3 separate regions of the Homo sapiens genome follow, and all the other regions are linked to region 3. Evidence: fine-mapped expression QTL. A gene starts in region 3. Each other region holds a variant in brackets. All regions are shown on one strand. Distances are between the middles of the regions.

Region 1 (10,715 bases), 29 kb after region 3:
CTTTTTTCTCTTTTAACAAGCATAGGACCCCACTCCTAATACAAAAACACTCCTCTTTCTCTAAGCCCAGGAAAAAAAGGACTCAACAATGTTTAAACACTTAGAATAAAACAAGTTAAATGCTGATGTCTGTCTTTTCAATCTGTAGGCTATGCTAAGGTTGAGCTCTCCATATTTGCCCTGATGGGAAATATATCAGAGCAAAGGGAGAAGGGAGGGGGTGTTAGAAGTCAGCTTTAAGCAAGCCAGTCTTTGGAAAGCAGGGACCCCTGACCATTGGAGGATAAATACAGCCTTATAGTGGTAGGGAACAAGTATCAACAGGAAACAGTAGACTATTTTTAGGCATAATAAGGAGTTAATATAGCTGTCTTCCTAAATGCCTCCAAGCATCTTCTGTTTAATTCCTTCATCGCTTCATCAGCAGTAACAATAGCAAGGTCACAGAAAATGCCTAACATTAAAGGACAGCCCTGCTTGGGACAACTCTTCAGGAAAACCTGGGATGAAAACATCCCCTTGCTATCATGTTGGTCCTCTTGTTATAACAGAAAAATAAATGAAAACCGTTTTTCATGAGAAAGAGAGAGGGTGAGTTTGTTCTGTATCTGTCTACTCTTGTGATATATATGAACTGGTGACTTTTATACTCATACCTGTTCATAAATACTCCTTATCTCCTTTATTTGGGAATATCCCAATAAATGGAAATGTAATTTATTAGCTTTTTAGTAAAACTTTTTTAGAGGGCAACAAATTTGAATGCCCTTAGAAGCTAAGGTTGTTTTTGTTTTTTCACATTCCATTCTCCCAACTGTGCCCATTCATTCTCTCTCTCTTTCTTTCTCTCTTTTTTCTTGTTCAGAAAAGAGACTCCTTTAAAGCGCGCGCGCGCGCGCGCACACACACACACACGCATCTAGGAGAAAGAGAGCCCCCTTCCCACTACCCTGGGAATGGAATAATTACTGGTTTTTTTTTTTCCTGGCAGGTTTTACAAATTTTGTGCAGAGAGCCAAAATGCTCCTCATCCCTTGCACTCTGCTGAGTGGGGCCCTTCCCCGACAGAGCTCAAAGCCTCCAATTCTTTAAATACACATTGAGAGGTTGCGTCCATTTTGCTGGTTCATATTTGGATTCACTGTCTTTACTCGCACATACTTTGTGCGGAGGGAAGGAGAGAATGGGACAAAAGCAGGGGACATAGAAAGAGAGTTAGAAAAAGAATATAAGAGAGTGGACAAAAGAGTTTGAGTATGAGTCGGCTTCCTTTTGTGTTTAAGTTTTCTACCTGGTCCTGTTTGCTAGGTACCATTGCCCTACAATGCTAATTGCACAACAAATGAACAAAATGAGAGCTGATAAAAGCAGCCCTGTTACCTGCAGATCTACGCCATGTATATTTCCTCTAGGGCCAGGAGGTGGAGATGGGGGTGGGGGTAGGGCTGGAGGTGGGGGGCCTAGACTCCCCCAAACCAAGCTCTTCACTAGTCTTCTACCCCTTTCTCCTCCCCATTTCCTAACCTGCTTTCCCCTCAGACAGACTGGGCATCACGCTGCCCACTCTAACAGCTGCTAAGTCGAAGCAGGAGAACCCTTCAAAAAACACTACACAAGAGGTCACCCTCCCAGACAAAACGAGCCACTTTAAGAACGATGCTCAGGGGGCTCAAAAGTCTGGGGCCCAAGAGTTTAAAAAGCAAGGGTAGCGTTTCAGGATATCAGTTCAGCAGTCTCAAATGACAGGCAGGAATCCTGGGCTCTCCATGGGGCTGGGATGAAGGAAGGGAGGAGGGACAGGAGCCAGGAGGCCCGGCAGAAGCAGAGGGCGACTGAACGCTCGCACCGCAGCTGGCTCCCACGAGCTGCCGTCTGCAGGGAACCAGGGGCCCGATAATGGAATTCAGGAGGCAGAGATCCTCCAAGAACCAGCCACTGTCTTGTACAGATTTGTAGAGAAACCCTCACTGTAATTAAAACCGTACAGTCAGATTAATTCAATGTGTTGCTCGGCAGCGTTTTTAATAGTAAAAATCCACTTTAAAATTGAATTAAGTTCGAAGAAAATTTCTGCGAGATTCGCCGGATTTGCCAGCTTTCATTGAAGCCAGCCTGGGCTGGACTTAGGTGGTGGATGCATATGGTAGTGTCGCCCCCCTCCCCCAAACCTCACCACCCCCGACTGGGGAGGTAGATATGGGGATGCAGATATGGGGATGCGGGGGCTGATCAGCACGGGGTGCCAGTTTGGCCGCTGGGCTGGGTCTAGGGCCTGGGGTTAACTCTTCTGATCTCAGGCTATGCACAGATTTTTGACACCCAGGATAACCCTCCCTTACCACCCTCTCTGTGAAGTTCACTGCTCGGGAAAGGCGGGGCAGGGGTAGAGAAAGAATAGAGCCCCACTGTATCTTGAAGCAATTTCCCACTGTGTGTTGCCGCGGGAGCTGGAGGTTGGAGCCCTCTCTGGCCGCTTGAGTGACAGACAGGAGAAAGTTGTGGTTCTCCCACGTGCCCCCCACCCCCTTCTTGAAAACCTTCCAAAAATTAAGAGCATTATTTCAAGCGCACTGTCAAAATGTCTCCCAAGCTTTGATTTGGCTGGCCGCCCCTTTTTTTTTCCTCCCCTCCCCACTCCACATCCTTTGCGTTTCGCGTGGTCGTGAAAGAAAGGTTAGTATTATTATGCTTTTCCTTTTAAAGGTTGGACACCTGGGAGCTGAAAACTTGCTCCAAAGTTCCTGCGAGACGTGGCAACTGAGTACTAACTGAGAGGCTCTCACTTGAGAGGGGCTTAGGGGTTAGGGTAGAGAGCTGCACCGGGGTCTTTCTGGAGGCCAAAGGAGTTTTTAGGGTTCTAGGCTCTCTCCTCCCCCACGGATCCGGCCATTGCTGTGGGCTCCTGGGTTGCTGAATGCTCACGCGCGTGTACACACACACACGCAAGTACACACACACACACAACCTAGGACGCAAATTCTCTAACGAGTTAGTCACATCATCAAGCCTGGGAAAACAAAAACCGCTGTGGGTCCCTGTTCCTCCGGCAACAGCGCGCAGACGCTTTAATTGCCGCAAATTGTCACTCTGTCCCCTTTTCATTTTCTCGCTCCTTCGTTTATTTTTAGTACACTTCAAATGCCTACACATTTCCCTAGTAAGGAGAGCGCGGAGCAATTATTGCCTTTGCCTTCAGGGCCTGCTTTGCCAATCACTGAATGGGGATGGAGTAAACAGGGCGAAAAGCGAGGTGCGTTATTGGTTTTGCCTATTTCAGTTGATGACCGCAAATAACTCTCCCTACCGCTCCACCCCTCCTTCTTTGCTGGGTCCCAATTATCTGGAAGAAAGGAGATGCGCCCCCCTCCCTCCTGCTCCCCATCACACCCCACCCCATGTGCGCCAAGTTTTGCTCGAATCCAGCAAATCCCGTCAGAATTGGCTGGTTCCTCAGAGAGTAGTTAGGAAGAGAATTCCACAGGGACCCAACTCTTAATTCTGTATTGAATAGAAAGACCCATCATAGCAGGCACTTTTCCTACCCCTACGCGGGAGCATAGGGTCTTTTTTCTTTGAGGGCTACTTGGGAAATAGAGGCCCCCAGGCAGGTGATAGAGAGGCCCCAGAGGCCCCTTCTCCATCAAGGCAAGCTTTTAGAGTGGTTTGGAGCAGTTCGGACTGTCTGTTAGAACGGCTATCAATTGACATGGCTGTTGTTCTCAATATTAGGCAGGAATTCTTAAAGGAGAACTTTACATTTCACGGTGAAGTGTTGTCTTGAATACTACTGAGGTCCGTTCCGCACCCTATGGTTTCTTTTCTCTGCTTTCATGGGACAAGCAGAGCAGTCTGGGATGGGGAGGGAGGCAGGTGTCCGCTGCAGCAGCCAAGGGGGAGGCATCAGGCGTCCTGCAGATGGATCCGAAACAAATCAGTGCGGGATTAACTTGTGTGTCCGCTCAATTGTCCCCAACTGCAAAAGCAGCTTGGGCCACGCTTGCCGGGTCGGGTTTGAGTTACTTACTTGTCCTGGGCACGCGGTCTTGGCCCTGCCCCGGCCGGGGCTGCCTGGGACCTGGGACCCGGGACCTGTCAGGCTCCAAGTCCAGCTGGTAGGACGTTTTAAAGGAAGGCAGTGAATATAAACTACTTCATACCCCCCTTCTCTTCTCTCTCTCTGACACACACACACACACACACACACACACACACACCTCGTATTTCTTTTTTATGAAAACATTTACCAAAAAACTAATTTCAGATCGTGGAAGTAAATTTCATGCTAGAATATATTTTACAAAACATGTAATCTTTCGAGGCCGGAAGATGTTTAATTAAAACCATACTTGACAAGTTGAGTTTCAAAGCGAATTCACACCAGTGCGGAAGGCTAATTCATATTCAAGATGTAGCCTGTAATTCAAGTTGTTTGAAAACGCCGGCCGGGGCAACGTGCAGCTAGCTCTGCTTGCTACCTGCCCAAGCGCCGGTGGACTCCAGAATCCTGCGCTTGGAACAGCCGCCACCTCCCCACCCCCAACCCCGCCCCCGCCACGCTCAGCTGTCAGCTGCCCTCCGGTGCACAGGCTTGGGTTAGCTCCCAGGAGAGAGAGGGAGAGAGTAGGAGAGGAAGAGAGACAGAGAGAGAGAGAGAGAGAGATCCCAGGAGAGAGAGGGAGAGAGTAGGAGAGGAAGAGAGACAGAGAGAGAGAGAGAGAGAGAGAGAGGGAGGGAGGGAGGGGGAGAGGGAGAGAGAGGGAGAGAGGGGAAAGCTTCCTGGAGCACATTTAGTGTCATTAAAATAACTCCCGCAAGGCGGGGGTGTGGGGGCTAGGCACGCGGGACCCACTGGGGGAGCAAGTAGGGGCAGATGGAAAAGATACCTTCTGGAGGCTTAGTGGGACTGATGAGGGTCCCCAGCCTCCTAGCCTCCTTCTTGCCTCCTGGCTGACCCATGCTAGAGGAAAGGGAATCCCCTGAAGCTACCTCTAATTCTAATGACCCCAAACATGGGGGGTGGGATGGGGGATTGTTCCGCCCATCTGATTTGTGGGCACAGCTCTGAATCCTCAGGAAAAGGCAGACTCTGCACTGTAGACTGCATGTCTGCAGTCATTGTCCTCAATAATTTCCCTCTTTAACCTCCTTTGCTGTTTCCTATTAATTTGACCAGTCTTAAATCAGAGGGGCTTTGCTACATGGGAAGGAAATGCTCCCAGCTCAGTGTGTGAATATATGTATATAGTTTTTTAATCAACTAGCCTTGCTGGCATAGGGTGCTGAGGGCCAGCCGTGACAGTGGGGAATGAGAAGGAGCCAATGGGAAGTCAGCACAAATGTGAGACAAAGAGACTTTGCAGGGCAGTCTAGGTGGGAGTTGAAGATGCCTGTGAACAGCAGCTCCAGAGCCTGAAGTTGTGGCCAATGATGGGTTCCTGGTCACTGTCCAGAGCCCACACTGCAGTGTCCCTCTCTAGACCCCCCAGCCTGCTGATCTTTCCTTCTTCAGAGATGACAGAGAGTTGTCATCAAAGTTAGCCTTATGGATGATCTGAAACCTGCCTTAGGAAGAGACCAGGACATGAATTTGAGACTTATGTTCGTTCAATTTTACCTAAAATGGTCAAGAAGAAAAATTTCTTTGTTTATTCCAGCCACTTATAGGACAAGGAAAGATAATTTTGCTTTAATTGAGGATTGTGACAATTATTGATTGGCTAATGGACTTTTTTATGGTCTATATTTCCTTTCAAACACACCATTATCCTATTCCTTAAAGCACAAAGAGAAGTCTATTATAAGAAAAAGTGTTCTGAA[A/T]TCCAAAGTGTTCAAGAAGTATTTTAGACAACATGGCTATCTCATTTTGCAGCCTTATATAATTGAAGCCAACACTCTTTTGATTTTATTGGGCCAGTTTAGAGAAAGCTTACCTTTTTCAAAGACAATCCGAAAACACTATTGTGAGAAAGTTTGTTGTTCTATACAGAAACTACCAGCTGGCATTTCTGAAGGTTCGGTAGGTATCTCCTTATTTGAAAATAGACGTGGCTATTGGAAGCTATATGCTTACACGATATGTGACATAATACTCATTGGTCAAATAATATTGATTTTAGATGAGCAGGTAAGACCTTGAGGTCACTTTTTAGTGTCTTGCATTTTGGAGGGCTGGGGTGGGGCTCTGGTTCACATTCTCAAAAAAGAAACAAAAAGCCATGTTATAATCATAGGCCTGGAGGGTGACAAAGACCTAGAGACAAACAGAGGCATTGCTGAGGTGCTTTTAAGCATGACATTGTTTAAGCTGAGTACTAAAATGTATGTACTTGACCAAATGCATTTGAAGCCTAATCCTACATCAGAGACTTGTGAATTACACAAAAGGGGAGAGGAACTGCAAATGACAATCCCCACATGTTTTATTTCAGTAAGAACAAATGGTTTTCTTGTCACAGGGTATGAGCACTCTTAGGGACGCTGGAGGCCCATGTGTAGGCAGCAATTCTGGCAGGAATATATAGTGAGAAGAATACAAGGTGGTTGGTTGGTAACAGTCAGAATGGTGCTTCAGGAAGGGCAGGGAGCAGCCTTGGTGTGCAGAAGGGGCAGGATGGGTAATAGTTCCCAGCTGGCCCACCCTTTCTATAGCCCCAGAGAATCTCATCTTTCCAGCCTCAGAGCATGGGTGGAGACAAGAGGCCTAGCCATGGTGGTGATTCATGCCACTTCTCTACCTTTCTCTTTTCTGCCCTTCTAAAATTAGCAGCATTTCACAGAGGAGGGAGCTAACACATGGCCCTCACCCCACAGACCACTTTGGTGTCTGGGAAAGGGAGAGAGATGGAATACAGGTGTTCTAGTTTCCATCTCCCTGGCCACCAGGTGTGGCTGGGGATGAGGTGGAGAAAGGGTGGGTTTGGGTTGCTTTCTCAGTTTGGGTTGCTTTCTCAAGCCAGGCCTGCACAGGTAATGTTTCTGCTTTTGAGGCTCCTCTGGTTAATGAAGTAGGTGTGATTTTCATGTGACAGGTAAGGCTCAGAGAGATTCAGCTTTGGCCCTAGCCTCAGGGCTCCGAAGGCAGCAGTCCCAGGATTCCTTGACTTCCCGCCAGAGCTCTTTAAACAGCCCCCTCTCTCCGGCCTTCTAACTTTTTCTTAAATTCTGAATACTTTAACCCTTGCTTGTAGTAATGTAGTTGTAGTTCTAAACCGTGTCAGTTTCCTACAGACATCTTCCGTGTCTAGGCGAGAATCAATACTAAAACACTTTTTTATTTTTAAAGTGGGTTTTAAAGGCCTATTGTGGGGAAACCGAGATGTCAATGTGACCTGGAGGCGCAGTAGGAGCAAGATTCCATTGGCGGCCGGCCGCGGCACAGCCTGGGCTGCGCCGGAGTTGGCTCACGTGCGAGCCTTATCATGCAAATCCGACGGCTCGGGCATGCGCACTGCATCCCTCAGGTACCCGCCTTCGTCTGGTAGTAGGGACTAAGACTTCCAGATGCGCAATAATTAGGTTTCCTCATTAAACAAAGGTTTCCCCATCATTCCCTCCTCCCACCGTTCTCAGCGTGGGAGCTCCTCACCAAAGCAAGCTGCTTACCCGTCTCCCCCAGCCCCACCTTCCAGTCCCAGCTCTCCAGCCACCACCCGTACTTCATCTTAGGGTCCATTTAGGGCCCTCTGCATTCCTCGCCATCATTTTTTTTCTTTTGACCTCCTATACAGGATATTAAATTCGAATTTTCCCCTCGTTTTAGGTCCGCTTCCTCACCTCTCCTTCCCAAAGATAAAAAATTCCCTACCGATCGATCGATCCTGGGTGGGAAGAGGGCGTCAACACCGCCGCTCCCTCAGCCTCGGCCCACTCCGCCCCTCCCTGGCCGTTTCGGTTTCATGCAGAAGTGCTGAACTTGGGTGTCCCAGGAACTCGATGGGCATTAAAGCTAGTCGCCAGCCAAACCCAATCCCCCCTACCTCCAGGCATCAGCCTAGGCCGCTAAGAAGCCCAATGCGGGCATCTGTAGCCCCTCGACCACCCCCAATCCCAGTGTGGGGGGCGCTGCTCTTCGATTCTCAGCCCCCACCTCGGGAATAAGCGTACTACACAGGGAAGGGCCCCAGGAGTGTCCTCTAAACTCCTCCAGGACACCCTGTGCGGGCATGGGGACCTCAGGGATCCATCTCCTCGGAGCAGGAGAATGTCCTTTTCTGGAAAGAAATCTCAGTAGGCGAGAAATAGGCAAGGTTATATTCGAAGCCTCCCGCGGGAAAGCTCGGTGGCAAGGTTCGCAGTTGAGCCTGACCCGCGCGCGGCGTCGCGGCGAGGACCGCGCCCACACGCGCTCCTGGAATCACAGTTAGCTCTTTCTTCCTGGTAGAAACAGGCATCGCTGCTCCGGCTTTCAGTTACTCTCAGCTTACCTGCAGGGCGAACCGATTTGTATTTTTCCACCAGAAACCTCCTGTCCCGAATACCCCCAAACTCCCCCTTCCCCCTCATCCAGCCTTAACCAGGAGAAGGGAGAGATAGGGGTTTGATTCTCTGATATGACACGAATAATTGTCGCATCATGTAGCTTCCTACATCTTGGTTTTAATTTTCAGTGAACCAAACAAAGATATTTGCAATTTTAAAATAAGCACTCGATTTAATAAATGGGAACATTGTGCAGGGAAGACTGTGCTCCCCCCGCCCCCCAGCCCCTTCAGAAGACGTTATTAGCTCTGACAGCATGCCGCTCAGGTTTGCGGAGAGGATTTTGTAAAGGGATGACAGACAGGAAGGCCAGCAATCATGGGCTCCTTGGGCTGAAGCTTTTTTTCTTTCTTTCTTTCTTTTTCTTTCTTTTTTTTTTTTTTTATCAGAATGTTCTGTTCGATGCCATTTATCCTTGATGATAGAAAATTGCGCTGTTGCCAGGACGCTGCTGCTGCCGCTGAAATAGAGGGCAGGAGCCACATTTCCATTTTCCGGCTTGAAAGCTATTCAAATGAATTTGCAGGGGGGTGGGGGGAAATCTGGCGATAAACAAATGAGAATAAATCGAGTTCCCCTTTCCATTCTTTTCTTTAAATGGGTAGCTCTTCATTTCCTATATAAAGATTTTTGTTCATCAGTGTTTGTGAATATCTGGGAGATAGTGTAAGCCAACGCACAATTTATTTTGATGCTCTTAAAGTGACTAACCACATAAACATTTAAAAAGAAGTGCATGTCTAAATATATATAAAGTATAAGAATTATATATACATAGATCATGTACATAACATACCTTCACACAATTCCAAACTACAATGAAAGATAAACTCTTTCAGTAGCGTTTCAATTCAATATAATTTGCAAGCACTGCTGGCTATTGATAGTTATGGACTTCTTACTAGTTGTGTATATACAAGTATTGCTAGATGGAATAATTTTTAAGGCCCTCCTCCCATGTTATGTATTTCAGGATACTATATAATTTAATTACCCTTAGATCTTTACTAATTTAAAAACATTTATTTCTGTAAAGATATATAGATATACAGATAGATATAGATAAGTTATCCTCTATTATGTGTCTCTTTTAAGTTAATTTTCCAAATTTACCTTTTAAGTTTTGTTTCTAAGTTAGGAAATATAAGAGTTGGTGTGCTGTGACTTTAAAAATATGAAATAGAGGCTGAAGCCTGTGCTTCCCTTCCTCAAAACTTAGATTCTTTGCAAGTTGAAAAAGATCATGTATTGAACTCAAGGGATCACATCCAAAACAGGACATTTAAAAATGAGATCTTAAAAAAAACAGCCTATAACACACATACTCTATTTCTCTCTCTCTCTCTCTCTCTATATATATGTATATGTATATTCTGTCTGTCTGTCTCTCTTTTCTCTCCCTGTCTCTCTCTCTCTCCCTCCCTCTCTTTCTTTTTAAAATAAGCTCAGGTAGATCTAATCTAATCCATTTCCAAGGCCTGAATTCTTAACTTTAGAAATCCCAGATTTGATCTCCATACAGAATCCTGTACAGAACTGGTGAGTTGATTTCTGGACTTGGATACCTCATAGATATTACATATTAAATAAAGATCCAACCCTAAAATCTGGGTTTGCTTCTTCCTTGACATATATATGTATATGTATATATATGTGTGTGTGTGTGTGTGTGTACATATATATGTGTGTACATATATATGTACACACGCACATACACACATTAGCAATGTCTTGACAGAAGCTATAAAACTTACGAGGCCCTCACTGTGTTTTAATAATTAAATAACTTTTATTGAATTATAACACTAACGTTTTGTTTCAAAGTTATACAGGCTGTTAGGAAATTTTCAATGATATAAAGGCCTTTAAGACGCAACGACTAATTGTATTCGAGATTTCAGATAGTAGTTCAAGCTTCAAAAAAATCCAACATTTTAAAACTTCACATTTTTTAAACGAATCATGGGTCCCTCACTACTATGATTTTAGCTACATGACTGTTTCCCCGTGATAGGACACCGCTGGGCAAACCAGGGCTGCACAGACAATAATAGTATAAAATTAGAAAGAGAAAGGCAGAGGGTGAGTTGTTATTGATGTTCCGAACTTCTCCAATAGAATGTTCAGGCGACTTCTTCCAGACAGCCACAATTCCTAGTTACAGATTCCGAACAATCCTTGTTATGGATTCCAAACAATCTTAGTTCAGCTGAAAATTTCCTTGTTAAGAAATTCAG
Region 2 (10,715 bases), 46 kb before region 3:
TCACAGGACTCTGTGCAATGAACCCTCAGTACCAGCCAGGAGCTGGTTAGACTTGCTGGGTGGCTAGATCCAGAAGAGAGACAACAATCATTGCAGTTCAGCTCACAGGAAGGCACATCCATAGGAAAAGGCTGAGAGTACTACATCAAGGGAATAATCTGTGGGACAAAAAAATCTGAACAACAGCCTTCAGGCCTAGACCTTCTCTCTGACAGAGCCTACCCAAATGAGAAGGAACCAGAAAACCCAACTCTGGTAATATGACAAAACAAGGCTCTTCAGCAGCCCCCCAAAAATCACACTAGTTCACCAGCAATGGATCCAAACTGAGAAAAAAATCCCTGATTTACCTGAAAAATAATTCAGGAGGTTAGTTATTAAGCTAATCAGGGAGGCATCAGAGAAAGGCGAAGCCCAATACAAGGAAATCTAAGAAATGATGTTACCGGGGGATCCTTGCTCCCAGAGCTCCCAAGATGGTGGCAGGCCGCTTCCAAAATGGCAGCGGGCCACTTCCTAGATGGTGGCAAGCCTCATGTTCTCTCACCTGGGGTTCTTGGCCTCATGGATTCCAAGGAATGGAATCTTGGGCCATGCAGTGAGTGTTATAGCTCTATTAGAAGCCGTGGGTCATGGAAGAGAACCGTGGAACCCAGTGACTAGTGTTCAGCTCCATTAGGATGAACCTGGGCACTTAGCCATCCAGGAACAATGGCAAGCTTTTAGCCTGATCTGGAGTGGCAGTGGGCGCCTCGCTGGATCAGAAGCACAGCAGACACCCTGTCGGATCCGGAGGGATGGAAGTCAGCAGCAGGTCTGTGACGGCGGCAAACAGCAGTGGTGGACGGCAAGCAAAAGCTCAGCTCGAGTCGTAAAAAACACGGACCAGAAGAATGCAGTTGCAAGATTTAATAGAGTGAAATAGAATGAAAACAGAGCTCCCATACAAAGGGAGGGGACCCAAAGAGGGTAGCCGTTGCCAGCTCGAATGCCTGGGTTTATATCCTGATCACTGTCCCTCCCACTGTGTTCTCAGGTGATAAATGATTGGCTATTTCTTTATCTCCTGTTTTAGCCTAATTAGTGTTTTAGTGAGCTCTCTTTCCTACCTGATTGGTCGGGTGTGAGCTAAGTTGCAAGCCCCAGGTTTAAAGGTAAAAGCGGTCACCTTCCCAGCTAGGCTTAGGGATTCTTAGTTAGCCTAGGAAATCCAGCTAGTTCTGTCTCTCAATGACACAAGAAGTGAAGGGAGAAATATTCAAGAAACTAGGTAGCTTAAAGAAAAAACTGTCAAAAATTTAGGAAACTTTGGACACACTTTTAGAAATGTGAAATGCTCTGGAAAGTCTCAGCAATAGAATTGAAAAAGTAGAAGAAAGATTCAGAGCTAGAAGACAAGGTCTTTGAATTAACCCAATCCAACAAAGACAAAGAAAAAAGAATAAGAAAATATGAACAAAGCCTCCAAGAAGTCTGGAATTATATTAAACAAACAAACCTAAGAATAATTGGTATTCCTGAGGAAAAAGATAATTCTAAAAGCTTGGAAGACACATTTAGGGGAATAATCAAGGAAAATTTCCCCAGCCTTGCTGGAGACCTAGACATCCAAATACAAGATGCACAAAGAACACCTGGGAAATTCATCACAAAAAGATCATTGCCTGGGCACATTGTCATCAGGTTGTCCAAAGTTAAGGTGAAGGAAAGAATCTTAAGAGCTTTGAGACAGAAGCACCAGCTAACCTATAAAGGAAAACCTATCAGATTAACAGCAGATTTCTCAGCAGAAACCCTATAAGCTAGAAGGGATTGGGGCCCTATCTTCAGCCTCCTCAAACAAAATAATTATCAGTCAAGAATTTTGTATCCAGCAAAACTAAGCATCATATATGAAGGAAAGATATAGTCTTTCTCAGACAAGCAAATGCTGAGAGAATTCGCCATTACCAAGCCACCACTACAAGAACTGCTAAAAGGAGCTCTAAATCTTTAAACAAATCCTGGAAACACATCAAAACAGAACCTCTTTAAAGCATAAATCACACAGGACCTATAAAACAAAAATACAGGTTAAAAAAACAGAAAATACAGGTTAAAACACACACACAAAAACAAAAAACACCGGCAGCAAAGAGCATGATGAATGCAATGGTACCTCACATTTCAATACTAATGTTGAATGTAAATGGCTTAAACTCTCCACTTAAAAGATAAAGAACCACAGAATGGATAAGAACTCACCAACCAACTATCTGCTGGAGACTCACCTAACACAAAAGGACTTGCATAAACTTAAAGTAAAGGGGTGGAAAAAGGCATTTTATGCAAATAGATACCAAAACTGAGCAGGGGTAGCTATTCTTATATCCGACAAGACAAACTTTAAAGCAACAGCAGTTAAAAGAGACAAAGAGGGACCTTATATAATAGTAATATTCCTGTCCAACAGGAAAACATCACAATCCTAAACATATATGCACCTAACACTGAAGCTTCTAAATTTATAAAACAATTACTAATAGATCTAAGAAGTGAGATAGACAGCAACATAATAATAGTGGGAGACTTCAGTAATTCACTGACAGCACTAGAGAGGTCATCAAGAGAGAAAGTCAACAAAGAAACAATGGATTTAAACTACACCTTGGAACAAATGGACTTAAGAGATATATACAGAACATTTCATTCAACAACTTCAGAATACACATTCTATTCAGTAGCGCATAGAACTTTCTCCAAGATAGACCACATGATAGGCCATTAAGCAAGTCTCAATAAATTTAAGAAAACTGAAATTACATCAAGCATTCTCTCAGACCACAGTGGAATGAAACTGAAAATTAACTCCAAAAGGAACCTTCAAAACAATGCAAATACATGGAAATTAAATAAACTACTCCTGAAGGAGCATTGTGTCAAAAATGAAATCAAGATGGAATTTTTTTTTTCTTTTTGAGATGGAGTCTCGCTCTGTCGTCCAGGCTGGAGTGCAGTGGCGCTATCTCAGCTCACTGCAAGCTCTGCCTCCTGGGTTCATGCCATTCTCCTGCCTCAGCCTCCCCAGTAGCTGGGACTACAGGCACCCGCCACCACGCCCAGCTAATTTTTTGTATTTTTTAGTAGAGACGGGGTTTCACCATGTTAGCCAGGATGGTCTTGATCTCCTGACCTCATGATCTGCCTGCCTCAGCCTCCCAAGGTGCTGGGATTACAGGCATGAGCCACCATGCCCAGCCTCAAGATGGAAATTAAAAAATTATTTGAACTGAACAACAATAATGACAAAACCTACCAAAACCTCTGGGATATAGCAAAAGCAGTGCTAAGAGGAAAGTTCATAGCCCTAAACGCCTACAGCAAAAAGACTGAAAGAGCACAAACTGACACTATAAGGTCACACTTCAAGAAACTAGTGAAGCAAGAACAAACCAAACACAAACCCAGCAGAAGAAAGGAAATAACCAAGATCAGAGCAGAACTAAATGAAATTGAAACAAAAAGCAATACAAAAGATAAATGAAACAAAAACCTGGTTCTTTGAAAAGATAAATAAAATTCGTAGACCATTAGCAAGATTAACCAAGAAGAGAGAAAATGCAAATAACCTCACTAAGAAAAGAAACAGGAGATATTGCAACTGATGCCATCGAAATACAGAAGATCATTCAAGGCTACTATGAGCACCTTTAGGCACATAAATAGAAAACCTAGAAGAGATGGATAAATTCCTGGAAAAATACAAACCTCCTAGCTTAAATCAGGAATTAGATACCCTGAACAGACCAATAACAAGCAGCAACATTGAAATGGTAATTAAAAAATTACCAACAACAACAAAAAAAGTCCAGGACCAGACAGATTCACAGCAGAATTCCACCAGATATTCAAAGAAGAATTGGTACCAATCCTTTTGACACTATTCCACAAGATAGAGAAGGAAGGAATCCTCCAGAATTAATTCTATGAAGCCAGCATCACCCTAATACCAAAACCAGAAAAGGGCATAACCAAAAAAGAAAACTACAGACCAATATCCTTGATGAACATAGATGCTAAAATCCTTAACAAAATACTAGCTAACTGAATCCAACAACATATCAAAAAGACAATGCACAGTGATCAAGTGGGTTTCATACCAGGGATGCAGGGATGGTTTAACATACACAAGTCAATAAATATGGTACAGAATTAAAAACAAAAATCACATGATCATCTCAATAGATGCAGAAAAAGCATACATTATACTGAATGGGGAAAAGTTGAAAGCATTCCCTCTGAGAACTGGAACAAGACAAAGATGCCCACTGTCACCACTTCTCTTCAACATAGTACTGGAAGTCCTAGCCAGAGCAATCAGACAACAGAAAGAAATAAAGGGCATCCAAATCGATAAAGAGAAAGTCAAATTGTCACTATCTGCTGATGCTATGATTGTTTACCCCGAAAACCCTAAAGGCTCCTCCAGAAAGCTCCTAGAACTGATAAAATAATTCAGCCAAGTTTCCAGATACGAGATTAATGTACACAAATCAGTAGCTCTTCTATACACCAACAGTGACCAAGCAGAGAATCAAATCAAGAACTCAACCCCTTTTACAATAGCTGAAAAAAACAAAACAAAACTCAGGAATATACCTAACCAAGGAGTTGGAAGAGCTCTACAAGGAAAACTACAAAACACTGCTGAAAGAAATCATAGATGATACAAACAAATGGAAACACATCTCATGCTCATGAATAGGTAGAATCAATATTGTGAAAATGACCATACTGCCAAAAGCAATCTACAAATTCAGTGTAATCCCCCTCAAAATACTATCATCATTCTTCACAGAATTACAAAAAACAATTCTAAAATGCATATGGTACCAAAAAAGAGCCCACATAGCCAAAGCAAGACAAAGCAAAAAGAACAAATCTGGAGGCATCACACTACCTGATTTCAAACTATACTATAAAGCCATAGTCACCAAATCAGCATGATATTTGTATAAAAATAGGCACATAGACGAATGGAACAGAATAGAGAGCCCAGAAATAATCCCAAATACTTATAGCCAATTGATCTTTGACAAAACATACAAAAACATAAAGTGGGGAAAGGACATCCTTTTCAACAAATGATGCTGGGATAATTGGCTAGCCACATGTAGGAAAATGAAACTGGATCCTCATCTCTCACCTTATACAAAAATAAACTCAAGATGGATTAAGGACTTAAACCTAAGACCTGAAACTATAAAATTTCTAGAAGATAACATTGGAAAAAACCCTTCTAGACATTGGCTTAGGCAAGGATTTAATAACCAAGAACCCAAAAGCAAATGCAATAAAAACAAAGATAAATAGCTGGGAGCTAATTAAACTAAAGAGCTTTTGCACTGGAAAAGAACAGTCAGCA[T/G]AGTAAAGAGACAACCCACAGAGTGGGAGAAAATCTTCACAATCTATACATCTGACAAAGGACTAATATCCAGAATCTACAAATAACTCAAACAAATCAGTAAGAAAAAAAAATCCCATCAAAAAGTGGGCTAAGTACATGAATAGACAATTCTCAAAAGAATATACAGAAAAGGCCAACAAATGTATGAAAACTGCTCAACATCACTTATGATCAGGGAAATGGAAATCAAAACCACAATGCGATATCACCTTACTCCTGCAAGAGTGGTCATAATAAAAAAAATAAAAAAATAATAGATGTTGGCATGGATGAGGTGAACAGCGGACACTTCTACACTGCTGGTGGGAATGTAAACTAGTACAACCATTATGGAAAACAGTGTGGAGATTCCTTAAGGAACTAAAAGTAGAACTACTGTTTGATCCAGCAATCCCACTACTGGGTATCTACCCAGAGGAAAAGAAGTCATTATACAAAAAAGAAACTTGCACATGCATGTTTATAGTGCACAATTGACAATTGCAAAATTATGGAACCAACCCAAATGCCCATCAATCAACAAATGGATAAAAAAACTGTGGTATATATGATGGAATACTACTCAACCATAAAAAGGAATGAATTAACAGCATTTGCAGTGACATGGAGGAGATTGGAGACTATTACTCTAAGTGAAGTAACTCGAGAATGGAAAACCAAACATTGTATCTTCTCACTGATATGTGGGAGCTAAGCTATGAGGACACAAAGGCATAAGAATGATACAATGGACTTTAGGGACTTGAGGAGAAGAGTCAGAGGGGGGCAAGGGATAAAAGACTACAAATATGGTGCAGTGTATACTGCTCGGGTGGTGGGTGCACCAAAATCTCACAAATAACCACTAAAGAACTTACTTACGTAACCAAATACCACCTGTACCCCAATAACTTATGGAAACATAAAAAAAGTAAAAACTAAAAATAAAAATATTAACCTGATTAAATAAAAAAGAATGTCTACTACTGAGGAGCCATTCCCTCATGGTCTCAGTGTTCTGAGGTTTCTTCTTATTCCTGTAACTGAGAGCTGAATCCCTCAGGCCAGTTCACCATAGGACTCTCTGATGGAGAGGAGCAAGGAAGACTTGGAGTTGATAAAGCAGTGGCTATGTCCATTTCAGCTGTTACCCAATCAACCCTCCTTTCATGATGATCTTCTGAGAAACAAAATTCCTCTAGCCCCACTAGAGACTTTCAAGTAAATGTTTTATTTTCCAGATTATTTGTAATATCAAAATTTAACTATATAGACCTTGAAAAGCAGTAGCAAAATGAATAAATCCAAAAGAATAGCATTTAAACTACACATCTCAAGATGCTATACATTTATGTGAATAGTGCAAAAAATATTGTGTAAAACCTCTGTTAGAATTAGCTAGTATTGTTTTTTTGTTTTTGACCATCAAAAGACCAAGTGCCAAATGACTATTTTTGTGTCTGAAAATCAAATTTATCCCCAAATAATGAAAATATGATCATTTTCCAAAAAATAAAGTTTCAGAACAATGTATATGGTAAGATCCCATTTTGTAAAACCAAGTGCAAATATATTCAAGACACATTATTTTCCCATTTTAACGTAGAGGTGTTTTTCAAACCCAAAAAACTATGATTAAAATGGCAGTTCATCATATAATCACTGACATCTTAAAAATGAAAAATATTATAGATAATTTCAATGTTTCCAAGTACAGACATAGTTACTGTACTGCCCAATCTCACTTTATAGAAAAGGCTGGTTAAGGTAATTTCATAAAATATATAAATTCATAAACACCATTGCTGTCTCTCTTCTTTCTGAAATTTTTCACATGCTATTCCTCTACCAGTTTACCTGGAATACTTGCCCCTTCCTCTACCCACACCCCATTATTTACCTGCTAACTTTCATTTGTAAGGCAGTGTTCCCTAGACTAACTTAGGTTCTCCCGCTATGTGCTCTCATAGCACCCTTTACTTCCCCTCCTCAACACTCCTCATACATCATATGTATTTGTTTATGTCAAAATGTATACTCCATGAGGGCAGGGACAAAGTATGTCTTGTCCTCAGCCTTAGCCAGAGTGTTTATCAAGGTGCCCAGGATATGGAAGACATTCAATAAATATTCATTGGCTAAATGATTGAATGATTGATTGAATAAAGGTGAGTGAAAACACTGGCCTAGTTCCTGGTCAAACAGCAGGTTATCAATAAATATGCATTGAGAGAAGAAAGCAATGGAGAAATGGAGACTGACAATCAGAGTTGTGCTGAGATATAAAGGAATGAAGATAATGCATTCAACTGGATAATTCCCACCTTCTCAGAGAAGTAGGGCCTTAAGAATATACCAAGGTAAATGACATGCAACAAAAACAAATCATATGCAAATGAATGCTGATTTTTTTCAGATGTATTATATTTTCTTCCACTCCATCATTATTTTATGCATGCTTGATTTATCTGTATTTAAAACTCTATCAGTTCCACCACTTTTTAATATGATGACTATATTAAATCAAGGAACAAAGGGCACTAATGTTTTATTATTTTAAGATAAAACCTATTTTATGCATTAATCCTGTGAAAGATGAGCCAAGAGAGTATGGGAATAGGTAATTGTCTTTCTTCATTTGTATTTGTTTGTCTGTGCATCTTTGTTTTTATGTGTTCTGTATGTATTTTTATGGTTTTTGGTGAAAATAACTACCTCATTGGGTTTGAGTGGAGAATGTTATGCACATTTTAAGCATAACATCAAAATTTCATCTTTTTTTCCTTTATAATTCTTGAGTTGCCAAGGTTTTCTCTGATAATTTTCTGATATTTTCCCTATCATCACAGAGGGACGATTTCTTTATCCCTAACTCAGAAAAAGCATTAGGCCTAGCCTTGAAATGAAGGTTTTCATAATATTTAATCTTTTTTTTTCTTCCTTTTGCTGCAACTTAAGTCCCATTATCCCTAGTCCTATCCTTGTTGACTAATGAGGATAATTGGTCCCTTTCCTCCTGGAAACATTCTTTTATGTATTTTGGAGAGTTATTATGGCCCTTCAGTTCTCTCTTCTCTAGGCAGAACAGGCCTTATTCTCTTAACCTTTCCTCACAGAGCTGATTTTCCAAACCTTTGATCATTTTTGTTCTTCCCCTCTGAACTCTCTCCAATTTGTCTGTCTCTTTAAAAACGTGGTGACCAGGAGAAAATTCAATCCTTCAGTTGAATCTTAACCAATGTGGTATTAACCCGGCCAATGCTTAGTGGATATGGAATAGAATCTTAAATATTATTTATCCAAATTCTGATATGTAAGTTCCCTTTATTTAAAACATAATAGAAACTAGGAATTTATTTTGGCACTCGGTGTTCCTTAGATAATCCATGATAGTGTACCATCGATTTGAAAAGCAGGGAGCCATCAAACAATAGTGAACAGAACTTGAGTTACAGATATAGGATAACATTTTTGGAGTAGATAGTAGATGATCTTCCTAAAGGAAGGGAAATAGAGCTTTTCAAATACAAAGAGAGATTTCCACACTATTTTGTCATTTTGCTCTGTTGTATAGTATCTAATGTTTGTAAAATAATTCATTCTATGTTGGTGTTCCCTTGAAAATGTTCTGGGAATACATTTTTACAACAACTCAAGTTGGTATAAGGCTTATTTATTGTTTCGTATCTCAGCTTAACATTATACTAACAGTTACTAAAAACTAGAGTCCACCAACTAGTTGGACAAGAAGAGATAGAGTTGTTCCACTGAAACTTGAGGAGAAATTAAGGAATGGTTTAGATGAGGATTTGTTTTAGATATGTTACATCATTTAAAAACTATGGGCCAGGCATGGTGGCTCATGCCTGTAATCCTAGCACTTCGGGAGGCCGAGGTGGATGGATTACCTGAGGTCAGGAGTTCAAGACCAGCTGGCCAACATGGCGAAACCCCATCTCTACTAAAAATGTAAAAATTAGCCAGGTGTGGTAGTGGAGATGCCTATAATCCCAGCTACTCGGGAGGCTGAGGCAGGAGAATCGTTTGAGTCTGGGGAGTGGAGGTTGCAGCAAGGAGAAATGGTGCCATTGCACTCCAGCCTGGGTAAAATAGCGAAACTCCGTCTTAAACAACAACAGCAACAAAACAAACAAACAAAATAAACGACTATGGAAAATACAAAAAGACATATAAGATATCAACTCTTGCTTTGGCAGAGTTTTAAAACTTGCAGATGAGACAAGACCAAGAAGCCTGAAACACCAGTGAAGCCATTTAATGCTTCACTGAGTGGTACTAAGTGTAAATGAAATGGAAATTCAGAGAAATGAGAGGTCGGCATAGGCTTGAGCAATAATGAAGATATGGCTTTGTAGAAGGGATGAACTTAAAATGAGCTTTGAAAAATAGATATCAGAGAAGAAAGGAGCGAGAAAAGGAGGAAAAAAGGCAAGAAAAGAGAAAGGACTATGATGGATCCAGAGAACAGAAAAGAAACTAACTTGGCTGGAGTAGAGAAATGAGGAATTGTTAGAAATAAGTACAGTGGGTGATTCTTATGAGTGCTTTGAAAGCCAGGCAGGTACGTATGAATTCAATGTGGTGGGCAGCTGGGGACAACTGAAGCATTGATGACAGTTACTATTTGGGGAGATTAGTCTGGTGGCAGCCTTCTGTGTGATGGAGTATAGGAGCAGGACAAAGCAACTCTGAGCGTTCTAATCATGACGAAGATCTTCGGGCTGTCAGACTTGTTTTGTCTTTTTTTTTTTTTTTTTTTTTTTTTAATATTTGGGCCCGATTGTTCTCCTTTTGCTATATTGCAAGGTGACTTTCATACAAATCAAAGAAAGACTCAGTTAAACATTTTAGCCCTGATCTATCAATACTTGTATTTGAAACAACTTAGAGACCCAGAAAGACCATTTAAGGGTAGATATTAGCAGAGAGATTCAACTTTAAATGCTTAACTCTGATATCACTCTTTTGGGAAGGGTTTGGGGAGGAAGAGAGGTGAGGAGATGCAATTAGTGTGACCACTAGATGTCACTGTTGCTAGGTTGCCTCAAGGTTAGATGCACAGTATTCAGTGGGCTTACAATGGAACTTTTTCAGTTCAGGAGAAAAATTTAAAATCTCTAATACTTGCAGCCAAAATGCTTCCCAACTCAGCTCTCCTCCACATCCAATCTCTGCCCGGGAGGCAAATTCAAGCTACTTACCTGAGGGTATGTTATAATTTTAAAAATAATCAGGCTGCTGTTTTTGCATTTTTGCTTCTTAATACAAT
Region 3 (10,715 bases):
GGAATTAAGTGGAAAATAGTTTTTCCCTCTGGGGATTTTTAATTTATTCAGAATATTTATATAATTGCCTACTAGTGAATCCTTTGAGATTTACTTTGTTGGGGATGCTCTTTAACTCCAAACACATTTTTCTTGAGGGCAAGGGGATATTATAATTAATTTCAGCATGGGAGGAAACCTTTTTTCTATTTATCCTGTTACCCTTCACACCCACTTTCCCTCTTCTCTCTCCCTAGATAAGCTCACTGTTGATTTAAATGGGCTCCTAAACATTTTAGCTTGGGCCTAGTTAGTTCAGCCTCATAAACACATGGGAAGAAGTTTGAACCTACATGGGGAATTAAATAGTTTTCCTAACTCAGATGAACCACCTCTGAATGCTAGATCCAAGTCAGTGTGCCTAGCCCTCTATTGGGAGACAAAGGCCATTCAGTTGCATTGCCAAAACCAGTGACCAACAACTTGTGCTATTTTTGAAAGCCTTTGCTACTTTTGCAATCATAACTCCTATCTTTTCATCCCACCCTAGTTCCAAGAAATGTGCTTTTTCTATACAAATATCAAATTGAATATTTCAGAGCTGTTACCTTAAGTTATTAAACGGCCTTAGTGCCCCAGCTCAAAGATAACTGCAGCTCCATTGTAATAAAATGATTACTCAGGTCTACCTCCACAAAATGTTTGACTTAACCAGTTTTGTTGTGTTTGAGATTTCTGGGATGAAAAGTACTCTAAATGGATCATGATAAGAGTGAATTGCTCAGAGCATTTTTCACTGGACAGATAAAAAAAGATAATGGATAAAGCAGTGCAAATAAAAAGAAAAATAAACCTCACCCCCAAAACTGGACTTTTAAAGAATGAGTATTCTACTGATAAAGTCAAAGTGCTTTTTATACCAAGTATGCCTATACAATGCTAGCATCATATTAAGGGGTCCTTTATTTACCTGAATTATGCACATCCAATTGATGTGTACAATGTTTTATATAAATGAAAGTTTCCATATTAAAAATATCTTAAGTTCGTAAATTAAATATTTTCAACTGCACTGAATTTTCTGAGTTTCAAGCCCAAAAGAAAAGGTGTTCTACTGTTGGCACTTCTATGAGTAAACAGATCTCCAGATAGGCTACATGGAGAAAGTTGAGTAAATGCTGTTATTAAGATTTTCTGCTACCCCACCCCCTTCTGCGGCTCTCTCCCTGCACACTCAGTGGCACTCTTTTCAGCCCATAGTAGTGAATGACCGAAAGCTTCCCAAGCACCTCATCTAACTAAAGGAGGGCCTGCTTCTTCACAAATGTCTAGGAAAGGCGGCCGGGGGCGGTGGCTCACATCTGTAATGCTAGCCCTCTGGGAGGCCAAGTTGTGTGGATTCCTTGAGGTCAGGAGTTCGAGACCAGCCTGACCAACATGGCGAAACCCTGCCTCTACTAAAAGTACAAAAATTAGCCGGGCGTGGTGGCAGATGCCTGTAATCCCAGCTACTCAGGAGGCTGAGGCAAGAGAATCGCTTGAACCCAGGAGGCAGAGGTTGCAGTGAGCCAAGATCATGCCACTGCACTCCAGCCTGAGCAACAAAGCAAGACTCTGTCCAAATAATAATAATAATAATAATGATAATAATAATAATAATAATAATAATAAAAGGCTAGGAAAGGAGAGTCATCCTTGATGCCTTCCAGTCACCCCAGGTGGGGACACTGAAGGAGCGCCTTACACCTAAGAATTGAGGGATAGGACAGGGGGCACCAAGAAAAAGGTGACCCAGAAAAAGGTGAGCCGGTGGGAGGAGGAAGGAAAAGTATGAATGTACAAGAAGGAAAGGAAAGGGCATGGGAATTGAGAGAAAGATGTATTGGAAGTACAGAGAAAGAAAGCCACCTGGAAGTGAACTCTAACACTAAGGACCAGTTGGTGTCTGGCCAGTGACTGAGCTTGGGGTTTGCCATTTGCGCAATGTTGCTCGAGGACACTGGGTGGCGCTCGTGGTAAAGACTTGCACTTATCTTAGGGCTTCCCTCCCGCTACTTCCCCTTCCCTCCCTTTGCAGATTTCAGCTACTAAAAGATGAAATTACTTACATTCTTCCTACGTGTCTCAGCGGGAAGCGCACTGCTGGAAGAGTTTGATGCCGTGGGGCTGTTTCTCCACGGCTGGATTTGTCGGTGGATTTTGAGAGGCAATAGCGTCCAGCCCGCTGGCCTTAGGACAAAGCTGGAGGCCCTAGTGTGAGAACTCCCTCACAACACCAGCAAAAGTTTGCTGCTCCGAGAGCCGGGATACTGGCCGGTGTATGTCCTGAGCGTGGGTCCGAAGCCGCAGACAGGCCCGCAGAGCAGCCGGCAGTGCACAGAGCTACAATGCCTATATTGTGAAATTAAATAAAACTGTACTGTGAACAGACTCTCCGCTGCTTTTAACTTAGTGCTTCCTCTCCCTCCCGGCTGCCTTTAAGGAAGGGGTGGAGTGGGGAGTGGGGTCAACCTTGAAAAGAGGAACAAAATCAAGAAAGTTGAGGCTCTGGACCTGTAGAGACACATCCAGATTTGGTCTCACCCAGCAGCAGAATGGCTCAAGTCTGCGTGAGGGCCAACGTTCTAACGCTTTAGGAACCGAAACAAAGAAGTTAAATTCTTCCCTCCCGGCCCACTCCTTTTTGTCTTTTATGAAATGTGGGAAAGAATGTCCATTTTGACTGCGGGGTTTTGGGGGGGTGAAATTTAGCAAGGTCTAGAACTAATTTGACATTGTAACATTATTTTCAATCGGATCCCGAACTTCTAAATTTTGCCCCAATTCTGCAGCTTCCAATCCCATCCTGGTTAGAATCTGCCATCTCAGCAAGGTGTAAGGGCATTGCTAGGAACACCCTGTTCAGTATAACCATGTGGTAACTCAAATCTCTATTTAACCAAAAGTGTCGAAGATAGGGGACCAGAGGAAGGGAGGCCTGGCTCCCTGCCCACTTGTCTTTGCCGGGAGGTGCTTTGAACTGTCCTTGGCATTGATCTGAGGAAGCGATTTCTGTAATTAAATGGCAGTGTGTATCAGGTGACTCGATGGGCGCCGATAACTTCTCCAGAGCAGAGCCCAGGACCGCAGACCCATGTTTCCCTCCTGTTCTTTAGCTCCTCACAGCCTACATCTAGACGGTTAACAGCCTGTCGGTAATCGACAGCGTCAAGTCAGGGCTGGCTGGCAGCTGCAGCTCTGTTTACCCCGAAGTCTATCTCAGAGAAGCCCGCGGCAGCCCAGGCCCAAAGCTCGTGACTCGGGCCAGTGGGAGAAGGAGAATGCTGCTGGGCGCCAGTCTCCCGGTGCTGAAGTTTCCCCCGAAAGGAAGTGCGACAATAGCTGTGTTTTTCTGGTGCAGTCCAGACCGCAAAGGCAGGGAGTTGGTGCACGCACGGCAGCTCTGCTTTGGAGTTCCTGAGCGGGGCTGTATCTTGCTCTGAGTTCCAGACACCCTACCTCTACCCGTCGGCCTGTTTTAGGCCGAGTGGCTCCACACTCCAAGTAAGGCTAAACTAATACTAGACACAACTAACACAGACGCTTTCTTCTTCGGTAGGAGGGAAAACGGAGGGGAGGCCAGATAACCCTAGATAGCCTGTGGAACTCCCAGATTGCCGGTCTTGGACCCCGTAAAGGAAGATGTAGGAAGGCCCCAAATCAGGATCTAGTCCGCGGAGTTGCCTATTTGAGGGGAGTAACAATGGGGATTGGGAGAGACTTTTATGCTGAATTTCTAAACTCCCAGCTGAATCACGACTAGAACAAGGATAGCACCTCCTGAAGAGCAAAGTTTAGATCTCGTGTATCAACTGAATGATTCTTGAATCCTTTCTTCCCTTGCATACGAGCTAAGTAGGATGTCTTTGCAGCAGGAAATAAAGGGGAGAGGGTACAGAAACCCGGGTCTGGGAAATGGAGAGACTGGGCCACATTCATGGAGCCAGGAGGGGGAAATCAATGAGCATCATCTGACTTTGCAAAGGCTTTGATCCTTGTCTCCTTCCCCACTTCCGAGACTTTCCCATTCTTTCCTGGAGGTATGGCAGGTTATACATGGATCCATTCACCTTTGCGGGAGTCTTTGGCCACTGAACATAGTTAAAGAGCCTTTATTCCAATGTCTTGAAAATAGATGAAAATATTAAACAGAAGTGGAGCTGTTTGGCTCTTTTTGCAAGCCAGCAACGAGGATTTGGGCTTCCTTAAGTTATATGTGTTTAAGACAGTAATTTTTAAAAGTCATTATAAGGACTTTGGGCTGCAGGAACTCTCCCTGCCATTCACCGGCTTAATGGACATTGTGCCTTCTTGGGCATTCCTGTCCAGCCCGCGTCCGGGAGATACTCATCTCCTGCAAAGGAAGTTGCCTCTTTCCCCAAAGAGCAAATTTTCAAAACATGTAAGTTACAACTTGCTTCCCAACACTCCACTAAAAAAAAAAAAAATGCTGTTTCCCTTCCTTCTTGCCTCCATCCTACATCCCCCCGCTCCCCACTCCCTGCACCTTGACTCCCTATTTCAGTATCAGTGTTTAATTCTACACTCGCCTTTGGTGCAGCCCACGGGGGCGGGGTAGTGGGAAGCAAGGAAAGATGGTCGCCCACCTCATTCCCAAAACATGTGCACTTTTGAGGCTTCTGATTGGAACACATTGTCCCCAGACATCACAGAGCCTTGTGCTGTGGCTTCTGCGATGTCTTTGGAATTTACTAAAAACAGATAGACTAAGACCCCTCCCCACTCCACAACAAGCAAAAACACACACAAGCGCGCGGGCGCGCACACACACAAACACACACACCCCCTCAGTACCCCCCACCCCCTTTTTAAGCAATGCTTTGTTGTGCTAAAACTAGTTGGACGAGTTAGGGTGTTACTGTTGCTCCCGAGGCCCTGGCCAATAGAACCAGATCCACCCCGCTGTGCGTAAGCGCGCAATTAAGGATTTAACCAAGGCTGTGCTGCGCCTCAGCCAGCAGTCAGCCGGCCGGAGACAGAGACTTCACGACTCCCAGTCTCCTCCTCGCCGCGGCCGCCGCCTCCTCCTTCTCTCCTCCTCCTCTTCCTCCTCCTCCCTCGCTCCCACAGCCATGTCTGCTTAGACCAGAGCAGCCCCACAGCCAACTAGGGCAGCTGCCGCCGCCACAACAGCAAGGACAGCCGCTGCCGCCGCCCGTGAGCGATGACAGGAGTGTTTGACAGAAGGGTCCCCAGCATCCGATCCGGCGACTTCCAAGCTCCGTTCCAGACGTCCGCAGCTATGCACCATCCGTCTCAGGAATCGCCAACTTTGCCCGAGTCTTCAGCTACCGATTCTGACTACTACAGCCCTACGGGGGGAGCCCCGCACGGCTACTGCTCTCCTACCTCGGCTTCCTATGGCAAAGCTCTCAACCCCTACCAGTATCAGTATCACGGCGTGAACGGCTCCGCCGGGAGCTACCCAGCCAAAGCTTATGCCGACTATAGCTACGCTAGCTCCTACCACCAGTACGGCGGCGCCTACAACCGCGTCCCAAGCGCCACCAACCAGCCAGGTACATGGACAGGGGGAAGGCTGGGCAGATACAGGGCGACTAGGACGCTGGGGGCGCGAGATGGGGTGGTAGATTGGGGGTCACAGCGGTTCACGGCAGTGGGGGCGCACGCGGCAGAAGGGAGTAGGACTCAGACCCTCCAACAAAGAGAGTTTCTCGGGCCAGCATTTTAGGGATTTTTAGTAGGAGAGCCCTGTGGAGGTTCGAACTAGCGTCTCTCCCCTCCGGCACCTTCCAAGGCCCTTCAGTCGCTGAATTCCCAGCTTGCCCGGCCAGGAAGCCGGCTAGGCTGGAAAGGGGATAGGGGTGGAGAGAAGAAAGAATCAAGCAGCTCCTGGCGTTTGCGTAACAAAGAGAAGGTTACTTGGGAATTTTGGTAAGCGTGCTGGGTTGGTGCGAGTGGGAATAGAAGGCTGCCTCAAAAACTCAGTCAGGATTAGTTTGAGAGCCGCCACAAGCTAGCACGGTGCGGGTGCCCTGAGCACGCTGGGTGGGGGTGGGGGGGTTAAGGAGTTGTAGCCAGCCAGAGAAGAGCGCGCCGAGAGTTTTGCGGTTTATCCAGGCATTTCCAAAAACAAAAAGCCATTTAAAGGTGGAGGAGGGTTGCTGAGGGGTCACGTTGTAGGATAGATTTTTTTTTCTGTCTCCATAGGCGCCCACAATTTGTCTTTCCGTCCTCCTTTTTCGTCCGCTTTGAAACTTACTTAGAGAGTTTAAGAGGGTTAGTGAGCTTGGGCGGTAAGAGAAAGGCATGAGGCTCGGCGGAGAGGTTTTATTGGTAAGGTTTGATCTCTTCCCACCAGCACATTAATAATCCTGCTAATATTAGCATCCCCTACTCTGGCAGAATTGAGACCACAGCCCTCATCCTCCACACTTCTCCCTGGAACTTGACACACACACACACACACACACACACACACACACACACCCTGGAGAGGTTCTCCGTCAGTTCCAGAGGGGTGGTAGTTTTGAGGAAGGGGAGTTGTAGCCCCAGGGCAGGTTTGTACAACACGCGTTTGGCAATCCCTCCCCCTCCCGCCCAAACCCATACTCATGACAGTGAGAATCTCATCCTGACCTGCCGCCCCTTTCCTACGAAAACACCCCACCACCGGTTCCTTCTCAGTGTGTGACTCTTGCTGAACTTTAAAAGAGAGCCCCGGGTTGAGGTGTCTACGTTTCTTTCACTCTCTCTGTATTCCGTGCATAAGTGGAAGATTTCTTTTTTTTTTTTTTTTTTTTGCCAAGAACATATTAAGTCTATTTGTAAAAGAAACCAGACACATCTGTGCCCTCGCAGATCTGCAGCGAGATTATGGGGGTTGCATAATCGACCCTCTGTCTGCGGCGGCCCCGACCGCTTGCTGCTGAAGTGAAGGAGCAGTTTGCTTGTGGGTCTTTGAACTTTGGAGACCTCGGTTAGCGTCTTCCCTGCCCAAGAGTCTGGCTTCTGCGGGCGCCCGAACAGACGCCGACAGAAGTAGGGTCACGGCCCAGGGCCACCTCCTTGAAGCCTGGGGAGGGGCTGGTGTTCTTGAAGCCTGGGGAGGGGCGGAAACGCGGAGGAGCACAGGGTGGGCGTAAAAACAAGTCCGGGAGAAGAAGCAACGACCGCAAGAGCTGAATCCCAGATGCCAAGGAGAAAGCAGTGTTGTAGGAAGCGCTTTGCACAAACTATCTGAATGAACAGAGTAGGAATTAATCAGAGGCTATCCCGCTTTTCCATATTTGGGGTAGGTGCATATTTATCGCGGTCCTGAAAAGCAAAGGTGGTGGTGATATGGGCAAAGAATGAAGACTGAGTGGTAAGAAACTCTAGGACTCTATTTGAGGCCCTTCCGCAAAAGGGGCATTGTCTGGTGACAAGCTTTAACTGAGTCTGTTTTGATTATTTAGAGAAAGAAGTGACCGAGCCCGAGGTGAGAATGGTGAATGGCAAACCAAAGAAAGTTCGTAAACCCAGGACTATTTATTCCAGCTTTCAGCTGGCCGCATTACAGAGAAGGTTTCAGAAGACTCAGTACCTCGCCTTGCCGGAACGCGCCGAGCTGGCCGCCTCGCTGGGATTGACACAAACACAGGTAAATACGGCGCTGCCATGCACTAGACCTGCCTGAGCTGCACGTCTGGTTGGGTCGCGCGGTTCAGTCTCGATGGGACTGGAGCTGTTTTGACAGTACCCGTGAGAAACTAACAGACCCAAAGACATCAGCCCCTATGCTTTAACTCGGTGAGTCAGGCCTTGAGACGGTGGGGATGGTATTCATCAGCGGTCTGGAGATACCTCCCACTAACCGCGCCCCCCGCCCCCACCCCGTAGCGGGCCTCCGGAGCTGTGGGGCCAATTTCGCGGGTTGAAAGCAAGCGGAGGGTTATTTCTAGGGCGGCCTAGGCAGCCCAGAGCAGCTATCTGGTTTTCTTAACAATGTAGAGCCTCCTCGGGGGTGAGCAAGGCCTGGTGTTCTCGCGGTGGTCTCAGGCTAAGAAAAGGCTGAGAACGTCGCCTGGAGCGGAGAAACTGAAGGGTCGTGCCCTGAGCCTACGGGAGCTTCAGGCCACGGCCACCGAAGGGTCGCGAGGTGGGGGGCGCTATTGTACGTGAGAAGTCTTCCTGGATTGTCCCATTCCTTTTACTCCTCCAACCCAGCTGGGGCCTACGGAAGCATAAAGAATGTTCGAGTCGCCGCCAAGAGCTGCAGTCAGATTCTGGCCTCTCTGAGCTGCAGAGGGAGTGAAGGGAGTAGGACGGGAGGTTGGGAGCTCGCTCCTTTTTCTGACCACAGGCGCGCGTAGCCCGCCCCACGCCCCTTCCCCGCCGGGCTCGCGCGATTGTTTTGGAGACCTTCGCCGCGTTCCGCGCGTCCTGCGCAGGCTTACACGAGGCGCGCCGCCGCCGAGGACACTCGGGCGCACACCCGCCGCGCTGGCGTCCCCCACCCCCAGCCCAAACAAAAGACAAGCCTTGGGGTCGTGGCCTCGCTGGGCCGGGGCGCCCCGAGCCGGCCAGGGCGCCCTCTGGGGCCAGAGCTCCATGGTTTGCCTAAGGCATAGCTTCTTGGCGGTAGGCCGCAAGCGGCGGGGAGACGCCAGGCAGGGCTGGGCCGCCCAGAGGTCCGAAGATGCCTCCAGTCGCCGCCCCGGGGAAGGCGCGGGCGACCTCTGAGTGTCCCGGTAACGTGTGCCTTTGTTCCCCAACTCAGGTGAAAATCTGGTTTCAGAACAAAAGATCCAAGATCAAGAAGATCATGAAAAACGGGGAGATGCCCCCGGAGCACAGTCCCAGCTCCAGCGACCCAATGGCGTGTAACTCGCCGCAGTCTCCAGCGGTGTGGGAGCCCCAGGGCTCGTCCCGCTCGCTCAGCCACCACCCTCATGCCCACCCTCCGACCTCCAACCAGTCCCCAGCGTCCAGCTACCTGGAGAACTCTGCATCCTGGTACACAAGTGCAGCCAGCTCAATCAATTCCCACCTGCCGCCGCCGGGCTCCTTACAGCACCCGCTGGCGCTGGCCTCCGGGACACTCTATTAGATGGGCTGCTCTCTCTTACTCTCTTTTTTGGGACTACTGTGTTTTGCTGTTCTAGAAAATCATAAAGAAAGGAATTCATATGGGGAAGTTCGGAAAACTGAAAAAGATTCATGTGTAAAGCTTTTTTTTGCATGTAAGTTATTGCATTTCAAAAGACCCCCCCTTTTTTTACAGAGGACTTTTTTTGCGCAACTGTGGACACTTTCAATGGTGCCTTGAAATCTATGACCTCAACTTTTCAAAAGACTTTTTTCAATGTTATTTTAGCCATGTAAATAAGTGTAGATAGAGGAATTAAACTGTATATTCTGGATAAATAAAATTATTTCGACCATGAAAAGCGGAATGTTTCTGAAAAATACTTCATTCTGCCCCTCTGATAACTGGCTAGTGAAGTTTTATTGAAGGCAACTAAAGAAGGACAAGCTCTGCAGAGATCCAACAAGGCAAAAAAGAAAACAGAAGTCGGGGCTCTATGCATGCAGACTGTATATGTATATATGTTCAATGCTATACTTTGTGTGTGTGTGTGCATATATATATATAATATATATGGCATGTTTATAGTACTGCCATATCTCATAATTGTTTCAGGTAGAAAGTAATGCTGAAATAAAAATACATCCCTCTCACCCTGTATGTGAGTTAGAAGGCAACAGAAATCCCTCAATAACCCCTCTGAATTCTAAGCTCAAAGCAATTATCTTGGAGAAGCGCCCCCACCCATCAGCCTCTGTGTAGTGCCAGAGCAATTAGACAAATTACCCTTCAAAGGGAGTTTCCAGAGATGAGAAAATGAAAAAGAAATCTAGCCTCACACCTATTACATTTTTTAAAAATCTAAAATGTTTGGAGCATGGCAAATGATAGAACCTTGGACTCTTTGGAGTATGATTATAAATGTATCGGCTCTTTTCGAGAGATGAAAACATTGCAGATATTGTGAAGAGGGAACTTCAGGGTTGGGGAAAGGAAGGAATGAAAGCATTGTGGCGCCGTGTTGATTTCATTTTGTGTGAGATAATACTCTTAATATTTCCCTTCCCGCCTTCCTTTTTTCAGGAAGGAGCTTCCTCTGTTTTGCTTTTACATAAAACAGTGGCAAACAGGTTCTAAATGATGCAAAATAGAATCTGTTTACTAGGATTTCTCCTTTGGGAAGCCTTCTTTGGGACAGAGAGGAAGGACTTGCTGCAGCTGTGCCCTGTGTCCCTTCCTTCTTCTTGCACTCCTGCATGTAGATACCAACAGCATGACCAGAGCTATGCACTGCACCTAAAGACCCAGGCCTGAATTGTAGGTGTCTTTCTGTCTGGCCGTCCTTCAGTGGGCCAGACTCTCTTTCCTTAGGATACGAAGGAAAATGTTGGGTTGGAAATTACAAGATGCATGTGAAATATTTTACAGCTAGGAAGTCAGCAGCAATAAATGTGACAAAAGAGCCTTCTTAAAGTGGGGGTAGATTAGAGCATAAAAAATTATATCCTGTCACTGAGGATTTCTCAGAAGGCTCTTCCAGGGTTGGGAGACTAGACCTGAAAAGGCACGCTATGTGCCTTGAGGGGAATTTACCTTACCTACATGTTTCTCTCTCTGTCTCGTCTCTCTCTCCTCTCTCTCTCTC

Alleles and levels. Positions count from the first base shown, and alleles are read on the strand shown. Sizes are in standard deviations (SD) of each study's normalised expression.
In carriers of allele T in region 1, the expression in skeletal muscle of the gene that starts at base 4,996 in region 3 tends to be lower than with A alone (small effect, 0.31 SD a copy in GTEx).
For the expression in tibial nerve of the gene that starts at base 4,996 in region 3, G is the high allele of the variant in region 2 and T is the other (small effect, 0.28 SD a copy in GTEx).

The links. PIP is the estimated chance that this variant, and not a neighbour inherited with it, causes the effect.
Region 1: its variant is the best candidate, but not a certain one, in a credible set for the expression of DLX5 in skeletal muscle (GTEx, PIP 0.56).
Region 2: its variant is the best candidate, but not a certain one, in a credible set for the expression of DLX5 in tibial nerve (GTEx, PIP 0.66).

The regions. Positions count from the first base shown.
Region 1 is chr7:96,990,048-97,000,762 of GRCh38, reverse strand. The region is part of intron 1 of DLX6-AS1 (DLX6 antisense RNA 1); the gene reads left to right. Among named protein-coding and RNA genes, the nearest start is that of DLX6, 10 kb to the left of the region's middle. RefSeq lists enhancers at 1,547-2,490, 7,244-7,770, 7,771-8,296. The variant A/T (reference allele first, on the strand shown) is at 5,818.
Region 2 is chr7:97,064,923-97,075,637 of GRCh38, reverse strand. No RefSeq gene overlaps it. Among named protein-coding and RNA genes, the nearest start is that of DLX5, 45 kb to the right of the region's middle. The variant T/G (reference allele first, on the strand shown) is at 5,405.
Region 3 is chr7:97,019,112-97,029,826 of GRCh38, reverse strand. It overlaps DLX5 (distal-less homeobox 5), which reads left to right and starts at 4,996. Exons shown (of 3, transcript NM_005221.6): 1 at 4,996-5,558; 2 at 7,458-7,642; 3 at 8,762-9,431. The coding sequence starts at 5,204. The coding sequence ends at 9,091. RefSeq lists enhancers at 2,054-2,253, 3,332-3,847, 4,774-5,490, 7,685-8,884.